Regions from separate parts of the Homo sapiens genome. Here regions 2 and 3 are each linked to region 1. The links come from fine-mapping of genetic effects on gene expression. A gene starts in region 1. Each other region holds a variant in brackets. All regions are shown on one strand. Distances are between the middles of the regions.

Evidence for each region. PIP is the estimated chance that this variant, and not a neighbour inherited with it, causes the effect.
Region 2: its variant is the best candidate, but not a certain one, in a credible set for the expression of ZFP92 in testis (GTEx, PIP 0.63).
Region 3: its variant is the best candidate, but not a certain one, in a credible set for the expression of ZFP92 in putamen (GTEx, PIP 0.81).

Annotation. Positions count from the first base shown.
Region 1 is chrX:153,409,864-153,412,615 of GRCh38, forward strand. It overlaps ZFP92 (ZFP92 zinc finger protein), which reads left to right and starts at 1,609. Exons shown (of 6, transcript NM_001136273.2): 1 at 1,609-1,840; 2 at 2,102-2,150. It also overlaps a transcript of PNMA6E not described here. RefSeq lists silencers at 1,405-1,654, 1,715-1,854, 1,917-2,127.
Region 2 is chrX:153,357,232-153,359,983 of GRCh38, forward strand. LOC105373378 (a long non-coding RNA gene) reads left to right here. Exons shown (of 3, transcript NR_135656.1): 2 at 1-25; 3 at 2,468-2,752. Among named protein-coding and RNA genes, the nearest start is that of MIR12129, 23 kb to the left of the region's middle. The variant A/G (reference allele first, on the strand shown) is at 1,376.
Region 3 is chrX:153,543,082-153,545,833 of GRCh38, forward strand. ATP2B3 (ATPase plasma membrane Ca2+ transporting 3) reads left to right here. Exons shown (of 22, transcript NM_001001344.3): 7 at 1-87. Among named protein-coding and RNA genes, the nearest start is that of ATP2B3, 27 kb to the left of the region's middle. RefSeq lists an enhancer at 791-1,643. The variant T/C (reference allele first, on the strand shown) is at 1,203.

The sequences.
Region 1 (2,752 bases):
TTCCCAAGGTCGCCCCAGTCCCCACCAGGTTACTGGATGATGCGGGTGCAAAGGTCCCCCCGCCCCCTGCCTCCATGGCCCAGGAGGACTCTGGGCTCAGCCTATTCCCTCGTGTCGGAGTGGCCTGGGCTGCCGCAGCAAATGACCACAAACCGCTTGGCTTCAGCCAACAGGAATTGACTCTCCCAGTTCTGGAGGCCGGAGTCCAGAATCGGGCGCTTCCTCCGGTGGCTCTGGGGGTGGATCCACCCACCTCTTCCAGCTTCTGGGGGCCCTGGGCACTCCCCACCTTCGCCTCCACATGGCCTTCTCTGTGTCTCTCTCTCCTGTCTCTTCTAAGGAAACTGTCCTTGGATTTGGGGCCCCCTGGATCATCTGGGTTGCTCTCATCTCCACATCCTCAATTTAATGACATCTGCAGACACCCTTTATTTGCATATAAGGCCCTGATCACAGTGCCTGGGTGTTAAGATATGGATGTATCTTTCAAGGGGCACCAACCAGTCACCCCACAACATCTCAACAGCCCAGATCCCAGCCTGCCCAGCCAGAGCCCCGGTGAAGGGACAAGCTTGGGCACCAGGACACACAGCTGAGGGCCACCGGGAGACTCCCTGCCTCTGCGCCGGGAAAGGGGCTCCGAAGCTCTCCCTGCACTGGGCCCCCTGGGGGCCCTGCTCCCTGCAACCGGAGGTTCCCTGAGCAGCGTCCTCGCCCTTCCCCTATGCCCCAGATGGACGGCTTTTGTTCTGGGAGCGCAGGCTTGCCGAGGGCTCCTTGCTGCGGGCTAAGTGCTCCTGGCCAGGGCCCAGGGTCTCTGAAGAAAAGAAACCCCTGAACTCTGGTTCAAAGGCCAAGGAGGCTCCCGCCTCGTGCTCAGTTCCCAGTGGCCGGGGCTGGGATATGTGATGTGGCTGATTTTTCCCTGTTGCTTTTCTTTTACGGTCTTTTTCATACGCTTCACTATTTGTCAAAGGTCTCACAATTGTCATCAGAGCAATATCCCAACCAACCTTGGATTTCACTCCCTGCTCTACCACGTGGAGCATGACCCTTTGGAAAATGACAAACTCCAGGTGCGATCCCCTCCGGTAACCTGAGGGAAAGCCAGATGCACCCAGAGGGTCTTGGCTTCTTGCACTTCCCTGACCTCCTTTTTCCCCTCCTCGTGTCTCCACACCATGCTCCCTGAGTCACCTTTCACCTCTTCCCCGCTCTCTGATCCTTGCCATCCTGGGTCACTCCTTTACTGAGTGACCATGGCCGGGGTACTTGGTGCTAGCTGCCCTGCAGAGGTCCCGGGGACCCCAGCGAGATGAATAACTGAATGAATGGACGTAATAACGCCCAGGGGTCTAGCCCATGGGAGGTGTTCTGCCAACGCGGGTCCCTCCCGTCCCCTTCAGGAGCCGCGGTGCGCTGACCACTTCGACCCCAGCCTTCAGAGCAGCCCAGACAGAAAGCGGAAGTGCCTCGGGGCGCGTGGGGAGCCAGGCCAGACGCCCCTGTGGGGCGGGCGCGGGGCGGGCCGCCATCCCTCTGCGCCGCGCATGCTCCATGCCCCCCCCACAACGCGCCCCGTTCCCACGCTGCCGCCGCCCCGGCCCCGCCCGCTCCCGGCCCGCTCGTCGGCGCACCAGACTGAGACTCCCCTTCAGGACGCTCTTCGCGAGCGGTACCCAGAGGCGAAGTCGAGACAAGCCCAGGAGCCCCCACCCCCCGCCCGCGTTTCCTGGGGACGCGGCCTCGGAGGGCTTCTAGGAGGAGGCGGCGGCCTTGGCCTCGGGCCTGCCGGGAGCAGGAAGGGAGGCCGACTCCCTCGGCTGCCCGCCGAGCCCAGGTAAGAGGGCCGAGCTGGGCCGCAGGGGTGCGGGTAAGCGGGTAAGGGGCCCGTCTCGGCAGGGTGCAGGTGTCGAGGGGGACGAGGGAGCTGCGGCGGCGGCGACAAGCAGGGACTCCCTGGGAGGCGGGCTAGCACTGAGTGGCCGGACCAGCCCTCGGGGCCGCCCCGTACCAGGGGCGCCAGGGGAAGAGCCATCCAGGGCTGGGCGCTGGGAGCTGCGGCCCGTGTCTGTCAATTTCTCTCCTGATTGGTTTCCAGCCACCGGTCCCGAGGCTGGCTAAAGAGCATCCTGTCGCTGATCTGCCTGGTGAGTTTGGATTTTGCACCTCTGGGTGTGAGAGTGCTGGGCAGACTGGCATTGTGAGGTTGTGGCACCGCTGCCCAGGCACCGGCCCTGAGGGTCTCCAGATCGGGGCAGGATGCCCAAAATTGTGCTCCAGAGGGTATCAGGTGGGGGCTGGTGCCTCGCGGTGGTGCGGGATGTTGACCAGGTGACTGGCATGCCACGGAAAAGCATCAGCTTAGCCAAGCCAAGGAGGAAGCGAAGGGCCGATGGAAGTGGTGGGCAAGGGTGAGAGAAGGAGCCAGCTGAGCTGGGCAGAAAGCGGCACCCAGCGCTTCCCTACAGGGCTAGTTGTGACTGATTCACTCCCACAGATACCTCCTGAGCAAGCATTTGAGATCTGCCAGGGACACGGCGGTAGTAAGCCCTGCCCTGTTGTTCTCGTTCTAGTGGCTGAGCGCAGACAATAAGCAGAAAATGTTTTCCATTAGTAATTACAGAGTCTGTTAAAAGGCAGTAAGAGCCGGGGAAGGGAGGTCTGGTTGCCAGTTTAGGTGGTTAGAATAACTTATTCTAGAATAAGTCTCATTTCTACCAAAACTTGAAGGTGGTAAAAGAGCGAGGCA
Region 2 (2,752 bases), 53 kb before region 1:
CTGGTGGTGAATCCTCCACAATCTGGTGAGTGTAAATATATATATTCCCTTCTCCCCTTCCCATTGCAATTTGCTTATTGTATCAATCTGCTTATGATATCATTTGCTTATTATTATATCACTTGCTTATTATATCTGCATTGCCATTTACATGGGATAAAGGTTGTTTACCCGTAAAGGTATTGTGTGTGTATCTTTTCTTCTCCCTTCACGCGTTTCCTGCACAGAACAATGTGGAAGTGACTTTGGAACTGGGTAAAAGGCAGAGGTTGGATTCCAAATTTTGAAGGGCTCAGAAGAGGACAGGAAAATGTGGGAAAGTTTGAAACTCCCTAGAGACTTGTTGAATTGCTTTGATCCAAATGCTGGTAATTATTATATGGACAATGAAATCCAGACTGAGGTGGTCTCAGATGGAGATGAGGAACTTGTTGGGAACTGGAGCAAAGGTGACTCTTGTTATGTTTTAGCAAAGAGACTGGCAGCATTTTGCCCCTGCCCTAGAGATTTGTGGAACTTTGAATTTGAGAGAGATGATTTAAGGTATCTGGTGGAAGAAATTTCTAAATAGCAAAGCATTCAAGATATGACTTGGGTGCTATTAAAGGCCTTCAGTTTTAAAAGGGAAACAGAGCATAAAAATTAGAAAAATTTGCAGCCTGTCAATGTGATAGAAAAGAAAATTCCCTTTTCTGAGGAGAAATTCAAGCTGGCTGCAGAAATTTGCATAAGTAACAAGAAGCCAAATGTTAATCACCAAGACAATGGGGAAAATGCTTCCAGGGTGTTTCAGAGACTTTTGCATCAGCCCTTCCCATCACAGGCCTGGAGGGCTAGAAGGAAAAAATGGTTTTGTGGGCCAGGCCCTGGGTCCCTCTGCTATGTGCAGCCTAGGGACTTAGTGCCCTGTGCCCCAACCACTCCAGCTGTGACTAAAAGGGGCCAAAGTACAGCTCAGGCTATTGCTTCAGAGGGTGGAAGCCCCAAGCCTTGAGAGCTTCCATGTGGTGTTGAGCCTGCGAGTGCACAGAAGTCAAGAATTGAGGTTTGGGGCCAGGCATGGTGGCTCACACCTATAATCCCAACACTTTGGGAGGCCAAGGTGTTGAGGTCAGGAGTTCGAGACCAGCCTGGCCAACATGGAGAAAACCTGTTTCTACTAAAAATACAAAAGTTAGCTGGACATGGTGGTGCAAGCCTGTAATCCCAGCTACCCGGGAGGCTGAGGTTGGAGAATCACTTGAACCCAGAAGGTGGAGGTTGCAATGAGCCAAGATCATGCCACTGCACTCCAGGCTGGGTGATAGAGCAAGACACCATCTTAAAAAAATAATTGAGGTTTGGGAACCTCCACCTAGATTTCAGAGGATGTATG[A/G]AAATGCCTGGATGCCCAGGCAGAAGTTTGCTGCAGGAGTGGGGCCCTCATGGATAACTCTGCTAGGGCAGTATGGAAGGGAAATGTGGGGTCAGAGCCCCCACACAGAGTCTCTACTGGGGCACCACCTAGTGGAGCTATGAGAAGAGGACCACCATCCTCCACACCCCAGAATGGTAGATCCACTGATGGCTTGCACTGTGCACCTGGAAAAGCTGCAGACACTCAACACCAGCCTGTGAAAGCAGCCAGGAGAGAAACTGTATCCTGCAAAGCCACAAGAGTGAAGCTGCCCAAGTCCGTGGGAGCCCACCTCTTGCATCAGCATGACCTAGACATGAGACATGGAGTCAAAGGAGATCATTTTGAAGTTTTAAGATTTGACTGCCCTGCTGGATTTCAGGCTTGCATGGGGCCTGTAGCCCCTTTGTTTTGGCCAATTTCTTTCATTTGGAACAGCTGTATTTACTCAATGCCTGTACCCCCATTGTATCTAGGAAGTAACTAATTTGCTTTTGATTTTACAGGCTCATAAGTGGAAGGGACTTGCCTTGTCTCAGATGAGACTTTGGACTGTGGACTTTTGAGTTAATGCTGAAATGAGTTAAGACTTTGGGGGACTGTTGGGAAGGCATGATTCATTTTGAAATGTGAGGACATGAGATTTGGGAGGGGAGAGGGCAGAATGCTATGGTTTGGCTGTTTCCCCACCCAAATCTCATCTTGAATTCCCACATGTTGTGGCAGGGACTCAGCGAGAGGTAATTATTCAATTACAATAGGGGCAGGTCTTTCCTGTGCTGTTCTCGTGATAGTGAATAAGTCTCACAAGATCTGATAGTTTTTAAAGAGGTGTTTCCCTGCACAAGCTCTCTTCTCTTGTCTGCTGCCATATGAGACATGGCTTTCACCTTGCACCATGATTGTGAGGCCTCCCTAGCCACGTGGAACTGTAAGTCCATTAAACCTCCTCCTTTTGTACATTGCCCAGTCTTTGGTATGTCTTTATCAGCAGGGTGAAAACAGAGTATTACAATCTCCAAACCTAACTGTTATTATAATGTAATGATCCATTTTCATCCTCACTTTCAGAGCTGGCCCTCTGGTGCCCAAAGCAGACTCCTGGGGTCCCTGTATTGGGCACTTACCCACTTCCTGCTGGCCGCAGCATGACACCTGATGCTCCTAGAGCAGCCAACTGAATTCCAGAAGAAAGGCTTCAGTGGTGTGTTTTCCAGAAGGAACCTGGCTCCTAGGATTAACAGTTGGGTCAAATCTCAAAAACTCTTTGCCCTTAACTACTGAAAACTTCCAGCATCTATAGCAGTCATAGTCACAAGATTTCCTTTAAATTTTTCAGCAATTGTTTTCCTAAGG
Region 3 (2,752 bases), 130 kb after region 1:
CCGCCGTTGGCGTGAATTCCCAGACAGGCATCATCTTCACGCTGCTTGGAGCTGGCGGAGAGGAGGAAGAGAAGAAAGATAAGAAAGGTAGCGCAGCAGTGCCGCCAGTCCCTGGTGCTGGTGGCGGCTCCTTCCACGCTGCCCATTCTTTCTTTGCGGGCCGGTGCCACTGGGGGCTCAGGGAGAGCCAGCCCAAGTGGGTGGGAGGCCGGGCCCTCTCTTTTGATTCTCCGTGGAGACTCCTCTTCTGAGGATATCCCCCCTGAGAGCCGGCAGGCCAAGGGCCCCTCCAGTGCCGTGGACGGGGAGTTTCCCTGAGACCACCATCCCCAAAGGCTCCGGGATCCCATACCTACCTGGACAGGAATGGCGTTAGAGGGACAGGAGCTACGGGGAGCCTCATGCTTACCCTCAGGGCCCGTGCCCAGTAAGGTGCCGAGGATCCCAGGCCAGCGTGGGAGGCAGCCAGGGAGGTGGGGGTCAGAGGTCAGAGGAGGCTGGGACAGGTGAGGGCCGGGCAGCCCAACTGTGGGTGGTGGCCCTGCCCTGGGGCTTACAAAGCTAGGCAAGCCCGAGCCAGGAGGGCCCATTCCTCGTCCTGTGGCTGGAGCTGCCACCATCAGGCCCTGCAGCGGGCGGAGTCCTCAGACCTTCTAACCTGAGTACTATTCAGGGAGGCCCTGATGGACAAGATTGAATGGCTGCCACAGCCCCTTCTGGCTGGGCAGCCTTGCTCTGGCCTGGACTTGCCTTCTGGCCTCTCCTGCAGCCAAAACATGGTAGGGAGCCACACCCGCATGGGAAAGCTCTGCTTCCTGCCAGTGACCTCCAGCCAGGGCCCTGGGGCCAGTGCGCGGGGTGTGGGGGCGTGGGGGCGTGGGGCGGGCAGTCAGGGCCCGGGGAAAAGGTCAGCCCTGAGCCCAAAGCTCCCTGGAGGCAGCAAAGGAGTAGCTGGATGACCCTCTGTGGCCTAGAAGCTTCGACGAGCCCTGCCTCCTGGCAGCCTGGGCCTGTGTCTCCCTGCACCGGCTCTTCTTTGTGGCACCAAGTCCTGTAGGGCTCAGTGCAGTGTCTCACCCCAGTGAGTGCCCTGGGGGTGCGCAGGCAGATGGGCAGCCCTGGGCCTCGTCTGGGCTGGGCTGGAGTCCCTAGGCCTCTGTCCTGGGAAGCCCAGCTGCCCCTGCCTGGGCTGCCTCCTCATG[T/C]CTTGCACACAATGGCCCTCTCCCATCGTCCACGGGAACCCACGCTCCTCTGGAGTCTCCAGCCGCCCTTCTCAGGCTGCTCACCTTCTCTGTACCTTAAATGAGTGTGTCCTTCCTAACTGTTCCAGGCCTCTCCTTTCTTTTTTAAATTGACAAGACCATTCAGCCCCTCCCAGGCCCCACCTGGCCCTCCTCTCCAGCACCCTCAGGCTGTCCTACTTAGGAGTCAGAGCTAGAGGGCTTCCTGGAGGAAGAGAACCCTGAGGGGGCCCTGGAGGGAGAGCAGCAGCTGGCCAGCTGGGTAGAGGGTACCAGCAAGACCAGGGGGCTCCCTGCTCGCCCTCCCCGTCTCTCCCGCCCCATCCCCATTGTTTGGCGCAGCCTGCCAGGTACACGCTTAGGATACTTGCCTTCTACCTGCACCCAACCCCCTATTTCTTGTCTCTTGACCTTGACTCCTATGCACCTTTCTCCAAGTGTGCTTCTCCTCCTCACCTTCCCCCCACTCCTGTCTCTTCTGGCGGGGCCCAGCCCTCCTCTTCCAGCAATGCTCATCCCAGACTTCCCCCTGCCTCCCTCCTCCAGAGGCCTCCCAGGGCCTGTGTGCAGGCTGGGTCCAGAGTCCATGCTTCCTTCGGGCCCCCACGGCCCCAAGGCTCTGCCATCTCCCCTGCTGTGCTGTGCGGTCATCGCACTGCCATCTTGTGTCCGTGGGGGTCTCCCCTCCCTGCAAGAAGGGCCCTCTGTGCCCACAGGAACCCTGGGCGGAGAGGGCCTGATCAATGCCCCACCCCTGGCTGAGTAGGGTCGGGGGGGGGGCCCTCCCTGCTCCCTGGGGACCCCGGATCCCAACCCCAACTGCCTGGGAGTGCAGATGTGGCCCCCAGGAAGCTCCTCTAACTGCAGCTCTCAGAAGGGGTGACTGTGCCCACCACCTGAGCCCCTGGATAGGGCCACTTGGGGCCCAGCCTGGCCTTGCAGGGCTGCTGTGTGCCGGGGCTCAGGCTGGCACTCCTGTGCTGCAGCCCTGGGTTGACCAATGACCTGAAAGCGCCCCGCAGAGTCCTAGCGTCTCATTCCTTTGTCCCTTTAAAACACACACTGGGGCCAGGCACAGTGGCTCATGCCTGTAATCCCAACACTTTGAGAGGTCAAGGCAGGTGAATCACTTGAGGTCAGGAGTTGGAGACCAGCCTGGCCAACATGGCGAAACCCCGTCTCTATTAAAAGTACAAAAATTAACTGGGCGTGGTGGTGTACACCTGTAGTCCCAGCTACTTGGGAGGCTGAGGCAGGAGGATCGCTTAAACCTGGGAGGTGGAGGTTGCAGTGCTCAAACACACACACACTGAGCTAACTGCTGGACGTGACTGCAGGGAAAACCAATCCCTAGGCAAGGGCAGCTGGGTGCTGTCTGCCTGGCTTCCAGGGGTTAGGAGCCATCTAAGTGAACCCCTTGAGCTGGTTTGCAGGGAGCAGACGTCCCGACTTGGGGAGGTTCCAGCTTCCGGGAACCTCCCACTGCCAGCCATGTGTGACCCAGGGCCCTT